Regions from separate parts of the Homo sapiens genome. Here region 2 is linked to region 1. The links come from fine-mapping of genetic effects on gene expression. A gene starts in region 1. The other region holds a variant in brackets. All regions are shown on one strand. Distances are from middle to middle. Region 1 holds the start of NUSAP1 (nucleolar and spindle associated protein 1). Region 2 holds the start of LOC105370790 (a long non-coding RNA gene).

Evidence for each region.
Region 2: its variant is fine-mapped to the expression of NUSAP1 in whole blood (TOPMed, PIP above 0.99).

What each region holds. Positions count from the first base shown.
Region 1 is chr15:41,326,850-41,337,283 of GRCh38, reverse strand. NUSAP1 (nucleolar and spindle associated protein 1) reads right to left here and starts at 4,403. Exons shown (of 11, transcript NM_016359.5): 1 at 4,234-4,403. The coding sequence starts at 4,326. OIP5 (Opa interacting protein 5) reads left to right here and starts at 4,693. Exons shown (of 5, transcript NM_007280.2): 1 at 4,693-5,044; 2 at 5,303-5,369. The coding sequence starts at 4,723. RefSeq lists enhancers at 1-545, 4,680-4,939.
Region 2 is chr15:41,481,655-41,492,088 of GRCh38, reverse strand. RTF1 (RTF1 homolog, Paf1/RNA polymerase II complex component) reads right to left here. Exons shown (of 18, transcript NM_015138.5): 18 at 8,526-10,434. LOC105370790 (a long non-coding RNA gene) reads left to right here and starts at 5,720. Exons shown (of 3, transcript XR_932169.3): 1 at 5,720-5,859; 2 at 7,410-7,594. RefSeq lists enhancers at 1,404-1,698, 1,667-1,786, 8,366-8,415. The variant G/A (reference allele first, on the strand shown) is at 6,389.

The DNA.
Region 1 (10,434 bases):
ACTTTGGGAGGCCAAGGCGCGAGGATCGCTGAATCTCAGGAGTTGGAGACCAGACAGGGCAACATAGTCAGACCTCATCTCTACTAAAATTCAAAAAAACACTGGCCAGGCAGGGTGGTCATGCCTGTAGTCCTAGCTACTCAGGGGGCTGCGGTGGGAGGATTGCTTGAGCCCGGGAGGTTGAGGCTGCAGTGAGTCCTGATTGTGCCACTGCACTCCAGAGAACTCCAGGCTGGCTGACAGAGCAAGACCCTGTCTCAAAAAAAAAAAAAAAAAAAAAAAAAGAAAAGGAAAGGAAAAAAAGGGGGGGATTTGGTGGTTGAACGATAAGGCAGTTTTCTGTTGATTGCATCTATTTTCCCATGACCTATGAGGTAAAGTCATCAAGGGAGGGAAGGGAACCAAGTTGAGTCAAGATGATAAAAAGTAATTATCCTCAAAAGTAGGAAAGTTCATGACTAAGAAGAAAATGGGCCAGGTGTGGTGGCACGTGCCTGTAATCCCAGCTACTTAGGAGGCTGAGGTGGGAGGATGTCTTGAACCTGAGAGGTTGAGGCTGCAGTGAGGCCTGATTGTGCCACTGCAGCCTAGGCAACAGAGCGAGACCTTATCTCAAAAAAAAAAAAAAAAAAAAACCAAAAGGAGGAGGATCAAATGCCCATATTAAGGTTTAGCGTTGCATATTTAAAATAAGTTCGCTCAACAAAGTTAGGTGTTTTCTCCAACTAGAGTTAGCTGCAGAGGTATAGGCAAAGATTAAGCACATAGCTGGGTTTAATCAGGCTTGGGTTTTGCCAGGTGAGTATAGGGAGGTGCAAGGAAGTGGAAATAGTGCCAGTGTTTGTAATTTAAGCTCGCAAGAAAGGAAGTGAGGGCATGAGTGACAACAGGACCAGTCGCCCCACTAACATTAATAACTGGCTCCTTCAAATTGCTATACCATTAAGAGAAGTCTCTCAAAAGAGGGAATATTATCTCCTATATATTTATTATTATTATTATTATTATTATTATTTTTAGACGGAGTTTCGCTCTTGTTGCCCAGGCTGGAGTGCAATGGTGTGATCTTGGCTCACTGCAGCGTCTGCCTCCCTGGGTTCAAGCAATTCTCCTCTCCTGCCTCAGCCTCCCGAGTAGCTGGGATTACAGGTGCCCCCTGCCACGCCTGGCTAAATTTTGTATTTTTAGTATAGATGGGGTTTTGCCATGCTGGCCAGTCTGGTCTCAAACTCCTGACCTCAGGTGAGACACCTGCCTTGGCCTCCCAAATGCTGGGATTACAGGTGCAAGCCACCATGCCCGGCCATAAATTTATTTTTAATAATATCATACTAGTAAAATTATCAAGATTTGATTAAAATAAAACATTACAATTTAAATAAATTTTACTAGTACAAATATACTAGTATACATAAAAATATAGTATATTTAGTATATTTATATTTATACTGGTATAATATAGTATATTTAGTATATTTATACCAGTATAATATAGTATATTAGTATATTTATACCGGTATAAATATAGCATATTTAGTATATTATACCGGTATAAATATAGTATATTTAGTATATTTATACTAAACATACATACTATATTTAGTATATTTATATTTAGTATATTTATATATTTAATATATTTATATATAGTATATTTAGTATATAGTATATTAAGTATAGTATTTATATTTATTTATAGTATAATATATTTAGTATATTAAATATATTTAGTATACATATTAGTATATATAGTATATTTAGTATATAGTATATCTATACTAAATATATATACTAATACACACTAAATACTAAATATGTAAATTTAGTATATTTATATAGTATATTTATAGTATATTTATCTAGTACATATAGTATATTAATATAGTATATTTAGTATATATAGTATATTTATATATTTAGTTTATTTTAGTGTATTTAGTATATTTAGTATCCTAGTATATTTATATATACTAGTATATATATTATATATTTATACTAGTAATAATATATATAGTATATACTAGTATAAATTATAAATTTTATTAGCATAATTATACTAGTATATTTATGCTAGTAAAATTTATTTAAATTGTAGTGTTTCATTTTAATCAAATCTTGATAATTTCTCAGAGCAATTTATTAATTTTTTTGCTATGTACTAAAATTTCAAAAGGCAATTGACTTAATGAGCTCTTAGGTTGTACCAAGTTAATAATTTAAAACATCTTATTATGGAAAATTTCAAACCTAAAAAAGTAGAGAGAATAGTGCAATCCCCCCATGTACCTATCTCCAGTTTCAGTAATTATTAACATTCTTCTGTTCTTACTTCATCTAGTTTCCCTCTCTTTTTCCTTGAGTATTTTACAGCAAATTTTACAGGTATCATAACATTTCACCTATAAATACTTGATTCACATATAAATACTTGATATGGGCCAGGCGTGGTGGGTCACGCCTGTAATCCCAGGACTTCGGGAGGCCGTGGCGGGAGGATCGCTTGAGCCCAGGAGTTCAAGACCAGCCTGGGCAAGATGGTGAAACCCTATCTCTACTAAAAATACACACACACACACACAGCCAGGCAGATAAAGGAGAAAGAAGGTGATCTGAGGCTAGAGGGTCAAAATGAGCAATGGGACAAAGATAGATAAAAGTGCCAAGTGTTCAGGGATGCAGCCTTGGATAAAAGATTCTAGCTAGGCAGCAAAAAAGCCTAAGGAATTTAGGCTGAGATATTAAGGCTTTGTTTACGAAGTATAGAGGAGCCACTAACCACTACAGCCCAGAAATATCCCCAAGGAAAACCCTTTGGTCATTCAGCCCCAACAGGCACTTAGGCCCTGATTATTTTGTTTAAACAATTTAGGTCGGGTGGGGTGGCTCACGCCTGTAATCCCAGTACTTTGGGGGCTGAGGCGGGCGGATCAGGAAGTCAGGAGTTCGAGACCAGCCTGACCAACATGGTGAAACCCCATCTCTACTAAAAATACAAAAATTAGCCAGGCGTGGTGACACGCGCCTGTAATCCCAGCTACTCAGGAGGCTGAGGCAGGAGAATCGCTTGAACCCAGGAGGCGGAGGTTGCGGTGAGCCGAGATGGCGCCACTGCACTCCAGCCTGGGCGACAGAGCAAGACTCCGTCTCAAAGAAAAAACAAACAAACAAACAAATAAAAAAAAAATTGTGACGATTGATTTAAGCATTTACTCACTGTCAGTATCACAGCCTGCAGGAGAAACCTCCAGAGTATATAGCAGTATTATGTGGGAAGTCTCAACTATTAACAAAATATATAAAACCGCTATCCTACATTAAATCCCCAAATCTTCTTCTAACATCTTGGGTTTTTTGTTTGTTTTTGTTTTGTTTGAGACTGAGTCTCTCTCTGTCACCGAAGTTGGAGTGCAGTGGTGCGATCTTGGCTCACTGCCACCTCGGCTTCCCAGGTTCAAGCGATTCTTCTGCCTCAGCCTCCCAAGTAGCTGGGATCACAGGCAAAAAGCTTGGATCACAGGCGTGTGCCACCACGCCCGGCTAATTTTTTAAGGGCCAGGCTGGTCTCGAACTCCTGACCTCAGGTGATCCGCCTGCCTCGACCTCCCAAAGTGCTGGGATTACAGGCGTGAGCCACAGCGCCGGGCCAACTCTCCAAACATCTTGTAGCCTCGGAGTCAAAGACCTTACTGGTTTTGATAGAGACCATCAACCCAACAGTCATCAATAAAAATTTACCCAAGGAGGTGCTCCCCTAAAAGTCGATTTTTTTTTTCTGACAGGTCCATCAATAAAGTATCAAGAGATTATCGGCAATATTACAAATCACTGGAGTCTGTTTGGGGTTTTCCAGAAGCTGAGCCAATTATTTACTTAATTGTCTAACGATTAACGACACCCCTTGTGCTTTCTGGGCCTGAGTTTCGTAATCGACGCCCTGAGAGGTATACAGTAATTTCAAAACAAAACAAAACAAAAAACAATAAACCATCCCTCGGAATAGAGCTTATCATGTGAGCACCCAGACAAGCCAGCTTCAAAATGAGGTGAAAACTACAGTTCCTCTTCCGTTTATCAGAGTTCTAACTGGGACTACCGTGAACCACATCTACTGCCCGAGGGGCAGGGAGAGCTGCCTCAGTCCCGGGCTTCCCTCTCGGTCCCTTCGCACCGCATCTCCCCGAGGCCGCTATTCCCGCCGCGCCCGCCCAGGGACCCGCACCGCCAGCGCCGTACCCTCAGGTTGGCCCGGAGACCCAGACTCTTGGCTAAGTTCTGCAGGTCACTGTACTTGAGGGAGTCCAGCTCCTCTAGAGAGGGGATGATCATCGCGATTCGAAATCCCGGCGATACTCGGAAGATGGATCACCAAACTTCGTCAGCGCGGTTCAAATCCCTGGCGCCACTCTTAACTTTGACTAGGCAGAAATTTATAGACAGTTTAAATGAAGAATGCCGCGCTTCCATTGGTTGAAAATGCCTCAAAGGCGGGGTTTCTAACCCTGACCAATAGAAAGGCTGATTTCCCGTCCCAACAGAGGCGCGCTTTTTTCACACTTCACGAATACGCAGGCGCCAAAGGGCCTGTAACGCCTGTTCAGGTAACGAGTGCGCGGACTCGGACTCCAGTGCTTGGATTGCCCATGATGTCCAATGAGGACGCAGGAGCTGTGCTTGGGGCGGGGCCTGGCGTGTATTCGAAAGGAAGGCGCCGGCTGCGGGAAGATGGCGGCTCAGCCGCTGCGGCATCGCTCACGTTGTGCAACGCCGCCCCGGGGGGACTTTTGTGGTGGCACTGAGAGGGCGATTGACCAAGCTTCTTTTACGACCTCCATGGAGTGGGATACGCAGGTGGTGAAGGGGTCCTCGCCGCTCGGCCCCGCAGGGCTGGGGGCTGAGGAGCCAGCCGCCGGCCCGCAGCTGCCGTCTTGGCTGCAGCCTGAGAGGTGCGCTGTGTTCCAGTGCGCACAGTGTCACGCAGTGCTCGCCGACTCGGTGCACCTCGCCTGGGACCTGTCGCGGTCCCTCGGGGCCGTGGTCTTCTCCAGTGAGTGCAGTGAAGCGTTCGGGAAAGGCAGAGGCTAGCCCGAGAGGGTGTTCCCGCTTTCTCCACCGGGTGGCGGAGAACCACCTGGGGAAGAAAACGGGATGAAAAGTTGGAAGCAAATAACTCCTTGGCCTGGGGATGGGGCAGGGAATCGGGGAGTCTCCTGATATTTACGGCCAGGATGAGTCTGTCTAGAGGAGAGATTTTCCATTTCAAGGCCCGCAGAGTATGGGTTCTGACCCGTGTTTGTCTTCCTAGGAGTTACAAATAACGTCGTTTTGGAAGCGCCCTTCCTAGTTGGCATTGAAGGTTCACTCAAAGGCAGGTACGTATTGATAATTACATTGGTCTCTAGTCCCTGACTTTATGAGACTGAGGATCGTGGAACTGACATGTACGAGGAGAAAACAGTTTGGGATGCTGCTTTTACCTGTTTGACTCTTATATGAACTTGATGTATTAATGAAATGAAAAAGTTGTATTTGTGTATTGGTTTTAGGATCTTCCTGAGGGCCACTTCTCCCAGGTGGCTTGTACAAGTGAAGTGAGGCTAAGAAAGATGTATCTAGTAGTGGACAAAAGAAAAAAATAACCTTTTGGTTTACAGTGAGAATAACATACTATAAACTACAATCCTTTTAGATATTAGAACTTTTTGATACAGGGTCTTGCTCTCGCCCAGGCTGGAGTGCACTGGTGCGCTCATAGCTCACTACAGCCCCTACCTTCCTGGCTCAAGCTATCCTCCCAACCTCACCCTCCGGAGTAGCTGGGACTACAGGCACACAGCACCACTCCCGGCTAATTTTTAAATTTTTTGTAGAGGCCTTAGTATGTTGCCCACGCTTGATATTAGAACTTTTAAGTTTGCGATTATGGTTAGTTTGTAATAAGCTATGCCAGGGCTAATTCTTCAGTAACCCCAGAAACTGGAGAAAAACACAACTAGAATGTTATGTACTTGAATACTGCCTGGTAAACTTTGCGACCTGCCTGTACTATGATTTACAAGTGACAATAAAGTAGTCAGTGAATTTGGTATTGCAAGGCTCCTCAATTTTGAGTTTTGGCTTTAACATTGAGACAATTCATTTCATTCTGACCAGTTTGATTCAACGTTACGGTTAAAATATAGGAATTCTTAGTTGCTTTGTCCAGTAACCAGGAAGATTTCTGCAGCTTGGACAAACTTCAAAAACGGAGTTAGACCCACAGCTCCCTTTCTTTTTCCTGAATAAAAGACACTCCCTATCGCTATAGGAGTCCCCTTCCCACCCAAAGGGGACAAAGCAAGAAGGAGCAATTGCCTGCTTGGAATTGGGTGTATTCTGGGGCCAGAGGCAGAAGGTTCCTGAATGTGCTCTTGGAGAGGAGGCTAATGAATCTAGACCCGTGCTGTCCTATACTGTAATCACTAGTCATATGTAGCTATTATATATTATTAAATCTGCATTGAGATATGCTGTGAACACAGAATACACACTGGATTTCAAAGACTTAGTACAGAAAAATTAATCATTTACAAATACTGATTACGGGCCGGGCGTGGTGGCTCACACCTGTAATCACAGCACTTTGGGAGGCCGAGGCGGGCGGATCACAAGGTCAGGAAATCGAGACCATCCTGACTAACACGGTGAAACCGTGTCTCTACTAAAAATACAAAAAATTAGCCAGGCATAGTGGCGGGCGCCTGTAGTCCCAGCTACTCAGGAGACTGAGGCAGGAGAATGGCGTGAACCCGGGAGGCGGAGCTTGCAGTGACCGAGATTGCGCCACTGCATTCCAGCCTGGGCGACAGACTCCGTATCAAAAAAAAAAAAAAAAAAATACTGATTACGGCTGGGAGCGGTGGCTTACGCCTATAATCCCAGCACTTTTGGGAGGCCATGACAGGCAGATCACCAGAGGTCGGGAGTTCGAGACCAGCCTGACCAAAATGGAGAAACCCTGTCTCTACTAAAAATACAAAATTAGCCGGGCATGGTGGCACATGCCTGTAATCCCAGCTAGGCTGTAATCCCAGGAGGCTGAGGAGGGAGAATCGCTTGAACCCGGGAGGTGGAGGTTGTGGTGAGCCGAGTTCACGCCATTGCACTCCAGCCTGGGCAACGAGAGCGAAACTCTGTCTTAAAAAAAAAAATTGATTACATGGTGAAATGACATTTTTGATATATTGGGTTAAATAAAATATTTAAAAACTAATTTCACCTGTTTTTATTTTATTTTTTAAAGCAAAATTAGGCCAGGCGCCGTGGCTGATGCATGTAATCCCAGCACTTTGGGAGGCCAAGGCGGATGGATCACGAGGTCAGGAGTTCAAGACCAGCCTAGCCAAGATAGTGAAACTGTTTCTACTAGAAATACAAAAATTAGCTGGGCGTGGTGGCGGGCGCCTGTAATCCCAGCTACTTGGGAGACTGAGGCAGAGAATTGCTTGAATCTGGTAGGCGGGGGTTGCAGTGAGCCAAGATCATCCCACTGTACTCCAGCCTGGGCAACAGAGCGAGACTCTTCCTCAAAAAAAAAAGCAAAATGAATAGAAAATTTAAAATTACATATGTGACTCACATTATATTCCTATTAGACAATGCTTGTTTAGATGCTTTGTAAAAAACTGGAGGAAGGCCAGGTGCAGTGGCTTACACCTATAATCCCAGCACTTTGGGAGGCCAAGGCAGGCAGATCACAAGGTCGGGAGTTCGGGACCAGCCTGGCCAGTATGGTGAAACCACGTCTCTACTAAAAGTACAAAAATTAGGGGGGCGAGGTGGCAAGCGCCTATAGTCCCAGCTACTTGGGAGGCTGAGGCAGGAGAATGGCTTGAACCTGGGAAGCAGAGGTTGCAGTGAGCCAAGATCGCACCACTACACTCCAGCCTGGACGACAGATCGAGACTCCGTCTGAAAAAAAAAAAAAAAAAAAACTAGAGGGAAAGCCCCATGTGTTTCTGTATTTGTGGAGTAAGATGAGCTATATGGGACTTACGAAGAGGGTTATGAAATGGCACAGCTCAAGACAACTTGATTTTTTTCTAAGTGTAGGTTCATTACCTAGATGGGGTCAGAGAATGAATTAAGAGGATGATTAATGATGCAGCTAAAAGAGCATAAATTTTAGAGACAGCAGACTCGGGTTCTTTTTATTCTTTTTTTTTTTTTTTTTTTTTTTTTTTTGAGATGGAGTCTTGCTCTGACCCAGGCTGGAGCACAGTGGCGGGATCTTGGCTCGCTGCAACCTCCGCCTCCCGGGTTCAAGCTATTCTCCTACCTCAGCCTCCCGAGTAGCTGGGATTCCAGGCGCACGCCACTATGCCTGGCTAATTTTTGTATTTTTATATTTTTAGTAGAGACGGGGTTTCACCATGTTGGCCATGCTGGTCTCGAACTTCTGACCTTGTGATCCACCTGCCTCAGCCTCCCAAAGTGCTGGGATTACAGGTGTGAGCCACCGCACCAGGCCTTAACTTTACTCTTAATGAGGCATGTGAAATAAATTGATCCCTCTCAATCTGTCATATTTGAATACTCCTAAAATATACTCCCTCCGACATTTATTTAAACATTCTACAATTGGCATGAACCTCTTAGATTCAAAGTCATAAAGTAGACAGATACAAGGTTACTTCCGTCTACATTTTATTGTTCTCTTACTGGTAGAGGATTTATTGTAACTAATTTTAAAAAGGATTATTATAGTATGTTGACACTTAGAAATAGCTTTTTTACCCTGAGCTTTTGTTGTGCTCAACAGCATATTTAAATGGAATTTTGTTTGTATTATAAGTGAAGTACATTTTTTTCTAATTGTTATGGCAAATTCAAACCCGAGAGAAGAATATAATGAACCTCTGTCTACCTGTCACTAAACTAGAGCACTTATCAACTCTTGGCCAATCTTGTTTCATCTAAAATCATAGTTGGCTTATCATGCTGGCTCACGCCTGTAATCCCAACACTTTTGGAGGCCAAGGTGGGAGGATCACTTGAACCCAGGAGTTCAAGACCATCATGAGCAACATAGCGAGACTTCATCTCTAAAACAAAACAAAATATCTATCCTCCACAATGTTTTGAAGCAGATACCTGAAATTACATCATTCCATCCATAAATATTTTGGTAAGGATCTTTATAAGAAACTTTTTTCTATTTATTTATTTTTTGAGATGGAGTCTGGCTCTTTTACCCAGGATGGAGAACAACCTCCGCCTCCCAGGCTCAAGCCATCCTTTCACCTCAGCCTCCCAAGTAGCTAGGACTATAAGGCATGCACCACCATGCCCAGCTAATTTGTTGTAGAGATAGGGTTTCAACATGTTGCCCAGGCTGGTTTTGAACTCCTGAACTCAAGTGATCTGCCCACCTTTGCTTCCCAAAGTGCTGGCATTACAAGCATGAGCCACTGCACTCAGCCTTTCTTTTCAATTATTTTATTTTATTTTTTATTTTTTTGAGATGGAGTCTTGCTCTGTAGCCCAGGCTGAAGTGCAGTGGCAGGATCTTGGCTCACTGCAAACTCCGCCTCCCGGGTTCAAGTGATTCCCCTGCCTCAGCCTCCCGAGTAACTGGGACTACAGGTGCATGCCACCACATCTGGCTAATTTTATGTATTTTAGTAGAGACGGGGTTTCACCATGTTGGCCAGGATGGTCTTAATCTCCTGACTTCGTGATCCTCCCACCTCAGCCTCCCAAAGTGTTGGGATTACAGGCGTGAGCCACTGCGCCCAGCCTCTTTTCTTTTTAAAGATATATCCCAATTCTGGCTGGGTACAGTGACTCACGCCTGTAATCCCAGCACTTTGGGAGGCCGAGGCGGGAGGATCACGAGGTCAGGAGTTCAACACCAGCCTGGATGACATAGCGAAACCCCATCTCTACTAATACAAAAATTTGCTGGGCGTGGTGGTGGGCGCCTGTAATCCCTGCTACTGGGGAGGCTGAGGCAGGAGAATCGCTTGAACCCAGGAGGCGGAGGTTGCAGTGAGCCGAGATCACACCATTGCACTCCAACCTGGGTGACAAGAGGAAGACTCCATCTCAGAAAAAAAAAAAATTTAAACATACCACAAACACTATAATAAGCCCCAGGTACCCAGTTTCAACAGTTATTAATATTTTGACAATTATTTTCCTCTATACTCTTCACTTTTTTTTTTTTTTAATTCCTGGAGTATTTTGAAACAAATCACATACAGTAAATCAACTCTTCATCACTTTGGTATTACTTCCTGTTGTCTTGTAGATTCACAGACTGTTATAACCAAAAAAATAACATAATCTAGTTGACCTCATTCTACTGATAAGGATATGGAGAAACAGTTGTATTTGGTAGTGTATTGGAAGTATTTTCCTCCTATAATATTCTCCAGTGCCCATGATCCAATGTAA
Region 2 (10,434 bases), 150 kb before region 1:
GAAGATCCTGGAGAACTGAGGAAGGAAGCAAAATAATGTAAGAAAGAATGGCAATGAGAGAGGCAGGAGAAATAGAGGGAATGAAGGGGTAAGAGGAAGAAGGGCATAGAGGAGTTTGAATACTTGACTACTTCACGGAGAACCTGGGAAATCACATCGCCACCTTCTCTAGGACAACCATCTGGAGGAATCTTGAGTATGTGTGTGAGGGATGTACTCTGCAGCTTGAAGGACCTGGATCACTCGTGTCTCAGACACTCACTCCTCTGCCTCCTTCACAGCTACACTGACCTGCGTCAGGATGTGGGAAGGTGCTGCCCTCAGAGACGGGGCTGGGAGGAAACCCAAGGTGGGGAGAGCCTGCAAGGAACTGCCAGAACTGGAAAGGTAGGGAGGGCAATGAGGGGCGAGAACTTGTCCTGCACTCCTGTCTGTCAGGCGATGGATGGGCAGGGTTGGAGGTATAAGCAGGTTGGGCACTGGGTCTCTGTCCTGGCTGCCAAGAAAAAGGGGCAATTCCTTTTCTTCTTGTATCAGGCACTTGCTCAAGCCTTAGGTCTACTATACCAGCAGCCAGAGAATTGCTCTTTGCTCTACCTGCCCAGGTGTCTCTCATTGGAAAGATGAGCGCAAACCTGGAAATGGATGCTGAACTGAAATCCAATCCCATAGATTCTTAGAGCAGTAAGGGGCCTTATATCCATCTATCCTCCTCATTCACATTACGGAAGTACCAAAGAGGTTAAGTGGCTCCACCAGGGAGGTTAAGGACACACAGCCAGTTGATGGAAAAGGCAGTGTATCCTGGCTAGGTCCCCTGACTTCCTGCGTGCTTGTCGCCCAGGCTCGAGTGCAATGGCGTGATCTCGGCTCACTGCAACCTCTGCTTCCTGGCTTCAAGAGCCTCAGCCTGCTTCTCTAGCCTCAGCCTCCTGAGTAGCTGAGATTACAGGTGCTCGCCACCAGGCCTGGCTAGTTTTTGTATTTTTAGTAGAGACGGGGTTTCACCATGTTGGCCAGGCTGGTCTCAAACTCCTGACCTCAGGTGATCCGCCCACCCAGGCCTCCCAAAGCGCTGGGATTATGGCCATGAGCCACCTCGCTCATGTTCTCAAATTCTTTCATTAACATCTTGTATTTCCTGGCCGGGTGCAATGGCTCACACCTGTAATCCCAGCACTTTGGGAGGCTGAGGTGGGTGGATCACCTGAGGACAGGAGTTCGAGACCAGCCTGGCCAACGTGGTGAAATCCCGTCTCTACTAAAATACAAAGATTAGCTGGGCATGGTGGAGGGCACCTGTAATGCCAGATACTTGGGTAGCCGAGGCAGGAGAATCACTTGAACCCAGGAGGCAGAGGTTGCAGTGAGCCTAGGCGACAGTGCCAGACTCCATCTCAAAACAAAGAAACATCTTGTAGTTCCTTCTGAAGGTAGAGTCTGCCCCCACCTACTACAGTCAGAAAACATAAGGGTACGTCTTGGGGCAAGGCCTGGGAGTCCCTGTATAGCTGTAGGATGAGGTCAGCAGGCTCTTCCGTCCTCTTAGTCATGCCAGGAATAAACGTTGAAACCCTAGAACATCTGTTCTTTTATGACTCATTTTTCTCAGTCTTTGATGCTTGAGTAGAAGGGATGTGGAAAAAATCAGACTGACTAGTATGGAGGTGGAAGGGATGGCCTCTTGAGTGCCACAAAAAAAAAAAATGGTGGGGATGTTCAAACACTTAAGCATTAAGCAGGCCAGATAAAATTTTTTTTTTTTTTTTTGAGAGTCTTGCTCTGTCACCCAGGATGAAGTGCAGTGGCACCACCTCAGCTCACTGCAACCTCCACCTGCTGGCACAAGCGATTTTCCTGCCTCAGCCTCCCATGTAGCTGGGATTACAGGTGTGTGCCACCACGCCTGGCTAATTTTTTGTATTTTTAGTAGAGACAGGGCTTCACTACATTAATGGGCCAGGCTGGTCTCGAACTCCTGACCTCAGGTGATCTGCCTGCCTCAGCCTCCCAAGGTGCTCGGATTACAGGTGTGAGCCACTGCGCCTGACCGCCAGAGACAGTTTTTAAAAAATTAAACAACAGAAAAGGGGGACACTGGGGTGTAGAGGAATGTGTCAAGGTTGTTTTTTGTTTGTTTTTGGGTTTTTTTTTTTTTTTTTAGACAAAGTCTCACTCACTCTGTCACCCAGGCTAGAGTGTGCCATCATGGCTCACTGCAGCCTCCACCTCCTGGGCTCAAGGGATCCTCCTGCCCCAGCCTCCTGAGTAGGTGGGACCACAGGCACACACTACCATGCTCAACTAATTTTAAAAACTTTTTGTAGAGATGGAGTCTCCCTATGTTGGCCAAGTCTTGAACTCTAGCCTCAAACAGTCTTCTTCCTTCAGCTTCCCAAAATGCTGGGATTACAGGCATGAGCCATTGCACCCCGCCAGTGTGTCAAGGTTTTGATGGTCATTAGGTGGCTGTTCTGAGATAGGCCATGAGAGTCTCTCTGCCTTGGCCACAAGGCCAGCTTACATGTCTGAGCAGATAACCTTTTTTCTTTTCCTTTATTTATTTATTTATTTTTGAGACAGGGTCTCACTCGGTCACCCAGGCTGGAGTGCAGAGTCACAATCACAGCTCACTTCGGTCTCAACTTCCTGGGCCTAAGTGATCCTCCTGCCTTAGCCTCTCGAGTAGCCGGGACCACAGGCAGAGGCATGTGTCACCATGCCCAGCCAATTTTTAAATTTTTTGTAGAGACAGGGATCTCACTCTGTTGTCCCGGCTGGTCTTGAATTCCTGGGCTCAAGCAATCCTCCTGCTTTGGCCTACCAAAGTGCTAGAATTATAGGTGTGAGCCACTGTGCCCAGCCAGAACCTATCTTCTTGTGGTATCTCAGTTGGTTGATCCTCCTGTTCCCTACAGGTCTGCTTTTTTTTTTTTGAGGCAGAGTCTCGCTCTGTTGCCAAGGCTGTAGTGCATTGGTGTGATCTCAGCTCACTGCAACCTCTGCTTCCTGGGTTCAGGAAATTTCCTGTGTCAGCTTTTGAGTAGCTGGGATTACAGGCACCTGCCACCATGCCCAGCTGATTTTTATATTTTTAATAGAGATGAGATTTCTCCATGTTGTCCAGGCTGGTCTTGAACTCCTGACCTCAGGTGATCTGCCCACCTTGGCCTCCCTAAATGCTGGGATTATAGGCATGAGCCACTGCGCCTGGCCTGAGGTCTGCTTCTTGAAGTGCCTGAGTCTTCACCCCCATCAAAGACCTTCAGGGGTGGGCCCAGTGACTGGTACCTGTAATCCTAGCACTTTGGGTGGCCCAGGCAAGAGGATCACTTGAACCTAGGAATTTGAGGCCAGCCTGAGCAACATGCTGAAAACCCATCTCTACAAAAAATAAGAAAATTAGCCAAGCATGGTGACACATGCCTGTGGTCCAAGGTATTCAGGAGGAAGAGGTGGGAGGATCACCTGAGCCCAGGGAGGTTGAGGCTGCAGTCAGCCGTGATGAAGCCATTGCCCTCCAGCCTGGGCAACAGATTGAGAGACCCCGTCTCAAAAAAAAAAAAAAAAAAAAAAAATTTCAGGATTTATCATGACTGAGGGCTGCATCTCTTCTAGAGAAACATCACCCTCAGGTACAAAACTAGGGAAGAAAAAAGGGCCTGGAAAATGGGATGTGTGATGTGAGGGGTTTCTGGGGTCCTCACCCCAGCCTGCCTCATAGCTGTGCCCACCTCTACCCCATCCCCAGGGCAGCACCAGTGGCAGGAGCAAAATCACCACTCATCACCCTCTGCCAGGCACAGTGCTGGTTTCTGCTTCCTAAGATGACAAGCAGGGCCTTTCACCTTGGGGAGAGAAGGGAAGGCACAGCCTTTGACCTGTGCTCCTGAATGGAGCATCTGTTCCTTTGAGGAGACTTCAAGTCTTCTCCAGCAGGAGCAGAGCCTCTCTAGTGTGTGTGTGGTATGTGTCATTGTGGCATGTGTGGTGTGTGTGGGGGGTTATGTTTGTGGTGTATATGGCATGTATGTGTGGCGCACGTGTGGTATGTGTGTGTTGTGTGTTGCATGTGGTGTGTGTGTGGTGTGTGGTATGTGGTGTGGGTGTGGTGTGAGTGTGGCATGTGTGGTGGGTGTGGTGTGTGGTAGGTGTGGGTGTGAGTGTGGTGTGTGTGGTGTGTGAGTGTGTGTAGTGTGTGTGTGGTGGGTGTGGTGTGTGAGTGTGGTGTGTGTAGTGTGTGTGGGGTGTGTGTGTGTGGTAGGAGTGGGGAGGTGAGAGGGGGTTGGGCTGTCATGTTCCACTGGACCCGGTGGTGCAAGGTCTTATTCTAGTAACAACTCCCAGACATGCACTGTGGGACTTGGTGCCCTTCCAAGGGACTTTATGACCCTAAGACCCCACTATTCTGTGACAATACCTGTGATTCACTCATGCATTCACAGAGCAGACACACTTCCATGGAGCAGCTGCTATTGTGCTAGGTGCAAAGGACACAGGAATGCGTGGATCCTGTGATGCCCCCGCCCGTTTCCGGGAGTGATAGTGTATCATTTTCATTGTCTTACCGAGGAAGGAAACCAGAAAGGGCCCAAGAAGAAAACAGGCCCTGGGACGCTCAGTGGCTGCCTTCCCTCCCTTTCCAAGAGGTTGTCAATGTGCGCGCTGGGAATTTTGGTTTCTCAGCTGCTTCCTGCATCCAAAACATTCCTCACCTCTGGTGGGTTCGATGTCCTTCTCCGTCAGGGCCTACCAGAGAGGGTGCTGGAGGGCTGGCCAGAGCCCAGTGGACACGTGAGAATGGGAGAGAGGTGAGGGTCTCCTTTCTCTTGGAAAGAGGCGTGAATGGGTCTTCACCTGACAGGCGAGCCCTCAGCTCCCAGCCCCAGCCTCTTTTCCTGGCCTCTAGGTTTCCCTTCCTTCCCGGCAATCTCTGACCTCATAAATGGATTGACTAGACGTTGTGGGAATATCCAGGGATGGGTGCAAGGTTACCTCAGCAGGGCTCAGGATCTAGCAGTGTTCATTGACCCTCCACAGTCTGAGTCACTCTTGTCTAAAACGAACAAAATGTGTCACCACACCTGTGTGTGCGCAGTAAGAACATATTCTCTCCTTACACTTCAGAAACAAGGTTTCCGATCCCACTCAGGAGCCTGTGTTCCTGTGATCCTCCTTCTTCTCCAGAACTCAGAACCCTCAGAACCTCACCCAGTGCGAGGGGAGGTGAAGGGGACAGGAAGGGTCTGAGGTCAGGGACTCAGCTTGTGGAGGCGACCACTGTAGGAATGCCTGGGACGTCGTCGGGGGTCCCTGCATCGTGTAGTCATGGTGGCGTGTGATGGGGGGAGGCGGGGGTTAGGAGGCGCCTCCTAATTCCATCTGTGAGCTCTGCGCCTGCAGGCGTGACCTCCACACCTCGGGTGTGCCTGGGGACCGAGTCCACAGAGCATGCAGTGGCCCGGGGTCTGGGACCGTAGTGCCCATGCGTCTCCGCGTGGGCCGCGTGCGAGCCGGGGTCCAGCTCAACTCCCAAGGCGCGCGCCCCGGGGGATCCACGGCTGGAGACGCATGCAGGCCCCGGGCCACTGGGACCCTGGCTCTGAGGCTGCGGGCCCGGAGTGGGGAACGAGGGCAGAGCGCCCTGGAACGCAGCGGCCGCGCGCCTCCTCCCTTGCTGCGTGGACTGGGCGCTAACGGCGCAGGAGGCGCACGGGGCCAGGGATGCGGGGACCGTTGGCGCGGACAAGGGTGGCGCCCAGGCCGGTGCGGGGGGTGGTGGAGACACCAAGCGGGGAGCGCCGAAGGGCTCTCCCGGCAAAACTGATGGAGTCAACCTGAGGCTTCCGGGCTTGCCAGGTGAAGGGCTGTGCTGCATCGCACGCGCTTAGCGAAGCAGGGCTATCCATGGCTAAAAGAGAAAAAGAAATCAAAAGTATTCGATTAAAAAAAAAAATAGAGGCCGGGCGTGGTGGCTCACGCCTGTAATCCCAGCACTTTGGGAGGCCGAGGCGGGAGGATCACAAGGTCAGGAGTTCAAGACCAGCCTGGCCAACATGGTAAAACCTCACCTCTACTAAAAATACGAAAATTGGCCAGGAATGGTGGCACATGCCTGTAATCCCAGGTACTTGGGAAGCTGAGGCAGTAGAATTGCATGGACTTGAGAGGTGGAAGTTGCAGTGAGCCGAGATTGCGCCACTGCACTCCAGCCTGGGCAACAGAGCGAGGCTCCACCTCAAAAAAAAAAAAAAAGAAAGAAAGAAAAAGAAAAAAAGAAATGGAGTCTCGCTATGTTGACCAGGTTGGTCTCGAACTCCTGGCCCCAAGCGATCCTCCCTCCTCGGCCTTTTAAAGTGCTGGGATTACAGGCAGGAGCCATGGTGCA[G/A]GGCCCAAAAGTATCTATCTTTTGAAGAAGTATCAAGGTAATCATCATGGGAAGGGTCAGAGCTTTGTTGTGCTTCTTTTACACTTACCTTCTGGTTTGGTACTATTGGTGCTATTTTGAGTATTCACTACTCTTGGGGGTTGTGGGTAGGTCGGGCCTCAGTTGGGGCCAGCTGGAGGGTGGTAAGGTGGCAAGCCTTCAACGCCTTCAGAAGCCTGGTCAGTAAAGGTGGTGTGCGTTGGCCTGTGGGGAATGACAGCAACGAGGGCCTGGCCCAGAGGCAGCACACTTTCTCTGGACGCATCCCTAGGCCAGCCCAGGGTCTCCCAGTGGGAGCCTCCATCTGGAGTCAGGGTTTCTTCCCCCCCTCCCAACCCCAGCCCAAGTGGAGTTTCTGGTCCTGCCCACTGCCCAGTGCTTCCGCCCTCCATCAGCCCACTCCAAGGGCCGTTCCTCTCCTCCAGGGTCCAGCGGCTTCACTCTCATTAACAACAGCATTTATTGGACCCCTACTGGGGACAGGTTGTTTTTTGAAAGGTGGAAAACTTGTGGCTCAAAGGTGTTAAGTAGCTCAGCCCTAGGTAATAGCAAGTGGCAGAGCGGGGATCTGAACCCTTTCCCGAGCCTGGGTGCCTTTTGGCTCTTGGCCCTCCCTTGTATCCTGAGCATGGTCTGGAAGCCCTAGACATGCCTATCTATGCTCCAGTGCCTAAAAGCCGTATCTCCATGTTCCCTGGGGCTGGCCTGTGGAACCTTAGAGAAGGCATGCCTTTTGGCCCTGTCTTAGCACTGCCATTCCCTTCAGCTCCTTAACACCCTCCTTGCCAAGGGAGCTCAGCAGTCTCCGCTTAAGTCAGGGAAATCGTGAAAAAAATTTGAGCTGGGAGTTGATGGCTTCCTAAGGCTGCTGGATCACAGCCACATTATAGTTACTGAAGGAAGATCTCCCTTCTGGAAAAACGTGGCCAGGGAGATGAAGTTGACCAACCCAGCACCCTTCTTCTCTCCACTTGCACCCCAGGTGTTCTTTCTGGATTCTCAGAGATAGGTAGCAAGTGGCTGCCCCACAGCACCCAAATCCTGGAAGATAAGCAAGCTATGTTGTCATCTGCCCAGAACCCCTGCTCTCTAGGTCCCACTGCTCCCACCAGTTAGGTAGTGGGAGTGCTGGGGAGTTGGAGAAAACCTCATTGGACGCACTTGCAGGTAAGCAACCTCTCCACCACCAGAAGCGGTCTTGGACGTGGCTCTTATCACTGTGATTGCCATCCCTTGCCTTCTTAAAGGGTGTGGAAGATCCAGGATCTTCTTGCTTCCTAGCTAAAATGTGTTCAGAAAGGTTGGAGACACAGCCTCAGGCACTGGGGATGGGGAGGCCTATAGACCTCCCCAGCATGAGGGGTGCGTGGATGAAGGAAGATCAGTGTTTCCTCCATAGCCACACTCATGGCCCTTGGGCACCCCCTTCAAACTCATGATAGCCAGAAAAAAGAAGAGCAAAGAAACTGTGCCTAGGCCAATTTAAAGTTGAAAGGAGCTGAGCACAGTGGCTCATGCCTGCAATCCCAGCATTTTGGGAGGCTGAGGCGGGAGGATCACTCGAGGCCAGGAGTTCAAGACCAGCCTGGGCAACATAGCAATATTCCGTCTCAACAGAAAATTTAAAAATTAGCTGGGTGTGATGGTGCATGACTGTAGTCCCAGCTACTTGGAATGGTGAGGTGGGAGGATCACTTGAGCCCGGGAGGTTGAGGCTGCAGTGAGCTGTGATTACACCACCGCACTCCAGCCTAGACAGCAGAGACCCCAGCTAAAAAAAAAAAGGTTGAAAGGCCCAGATTCTCACTAGGGTTAGGCAGTACATCAGGGGTCTACTTAGCTCTGTTAAAACTTATTGGTCTCTTACCAAGACAGGAAGTAAACCAGGACAACTGGAGGTTTCCTTGGGTCTAGGCAACTACCCTACCAGAGAGGCTTCCGGGGAACCAGGCTGCTAAAGAGTTGACGATGGCCACTTTCACTTTTGTGGGCACAGGGCTAAGAGAAGAAGGAAAAGGAGCAAGAGAGGTTCTCTTGGACTTTCAAAACATGGCTTTAGGAGTTGCCACTCAGGATGCAATCCTTAGACTCAATCTGATCCCTTTGTTAAAATGGCATAACATTTATTTACAATATTGGTACAGTTTGAGTGGCAAGTCAGGACTTCACAAAAGCAAAAACATTCTTTTTGAAGGGAGTGGCAGGCAGTAGACTTTCCCTACACCTGCCAGAAGCAAGACAGACAAACAGACCTATAAACATTATGAACTAGGCAGATGGACACTGGCCTTTTTGCTTCTTGGAAGGAACTGAAAAAATGCATAAAAACAACCTTGGGTGCTGCACCCTTCAACACTGAAACCACACTGTGGAGGGAGGAGGGGCCCAATGAGGGAATTCCCCAGCACAAGAAATAGTGTGAACCACCAAGAAATCCTAGTTGGTAGGACAAAGCCAGTGTCTTAATGCCTGACCAAGATCTTGGTTCAGAGGCACTGCCTCAGCTGAGATTGGAGACAAGTCCTTAGTCTTGGTCCCAATCACTACAGAGGCTACTCGGGTGGAAAGATACCCTTCGGTCTTCTTTGGTTGGCTTTTCTCCCTGCTGTGTGCATTGGCATCTCGTGGGGGTTTCAGCGGCTACATGTGGGGAGGTGGTGGCAAAGTGGCTACAGTGTGATGCAGTTTTAATAAAAATTTTATTACACAGCCATAATGTAATCAACACTTCTCCAAATCCAAATGATACTAAATACAGATCTACATGGTGGATCAGAATGACTCCAGCGAATTATCTGGATTCTATAATTTTATGTTTTTTAAAACCAGAAATCAAAAAAAAAAGTCCAAGTTCATCATGATAGGAGAGGTCCCAGCAGCTCCAGGACTCTGCTGAAGTCCAGGCAATGTTAACAGTCTGTGATTCCACATTTACACAATAGTCTATAAAGAGTTTCGGTCAATGGACTATTCAAGTATATATGATTTTAACGAGTCCATCACCACTCCTTTGCCCAAGTGAACTGTGTCACAGCTACCACAAAGCTGTGTTACAGTCATATTTAGCAATTTTACAATCATAATACTCCTTTAAAACCATCCATTGCTGCTTTAAAAATAAAAAAAAAGTAAACTAAGTTAAAGCGACACTGAGGCTCTACTAAACCCAGAAGTTACCAAGTTCATTTTTATGTTTAAATACAACTTACAAGTCCATGATTTCCCATCGTCCCCCTTCCTTGTACGAAAGCAGGGTGAGGAAGTACAAAGCAGAGCTTTTAGATTAGTCTCTCGTGGAGATCGGAGCTCTCAGCTGTTCCTTTAGCTTAGCTCTTGGTATATATAGTCAGCTGTACTTTGTTCTGAAAGATTTGTTAAATGCCACTTTTATTTACACTTGGAGCTTTACACCTGAGAGTGATTATCAAGCAGTCAGTTTATCTCTTTTCAAACATTTCATAAAGACATACACACACCTCTGCTGGCTTCGCCCTAGCTGCACAATATATATGCTGACCATATATATGTATACACACACACAAAACTGCACATGCTTGAAACATTTGCAACCTAAATCTTTTTGAGGCGGAGTCTCACTCTGTCACCCAGACTGGAGTGCAGTGGCACGATCTTGGCTCACCACAACCTCCGCCTCCCAGGTTCAAGGGATTCTCCTGTCTCAGCCCCCCGAGTAGCTGGGATTACAGGCACGCACCACCATGCCCGGCTAAGTTTTGTAGTTTTAGTAGAGATGGGGTTTCACCGTGTTAGTCAGATTGGTCTTGAACTCCTGACCTCAGGTGATCCACCCGCCTAGGCCTCCCAAAGTGCTGGGATTACAGGCGTGAGCTACTGCACCCGGCGTAACCTAAATCTTTTTGTGTTTGCTCTCCACATTCATATTCAGAAATTTCTCTTAAAAACAAAATGTAGTTCTTGCCAAAGCAGCAAAACAGAATCACCAGGAAGAGGCTGGTATACTGGGTGAGAAAAAGAAGTTCTACGTT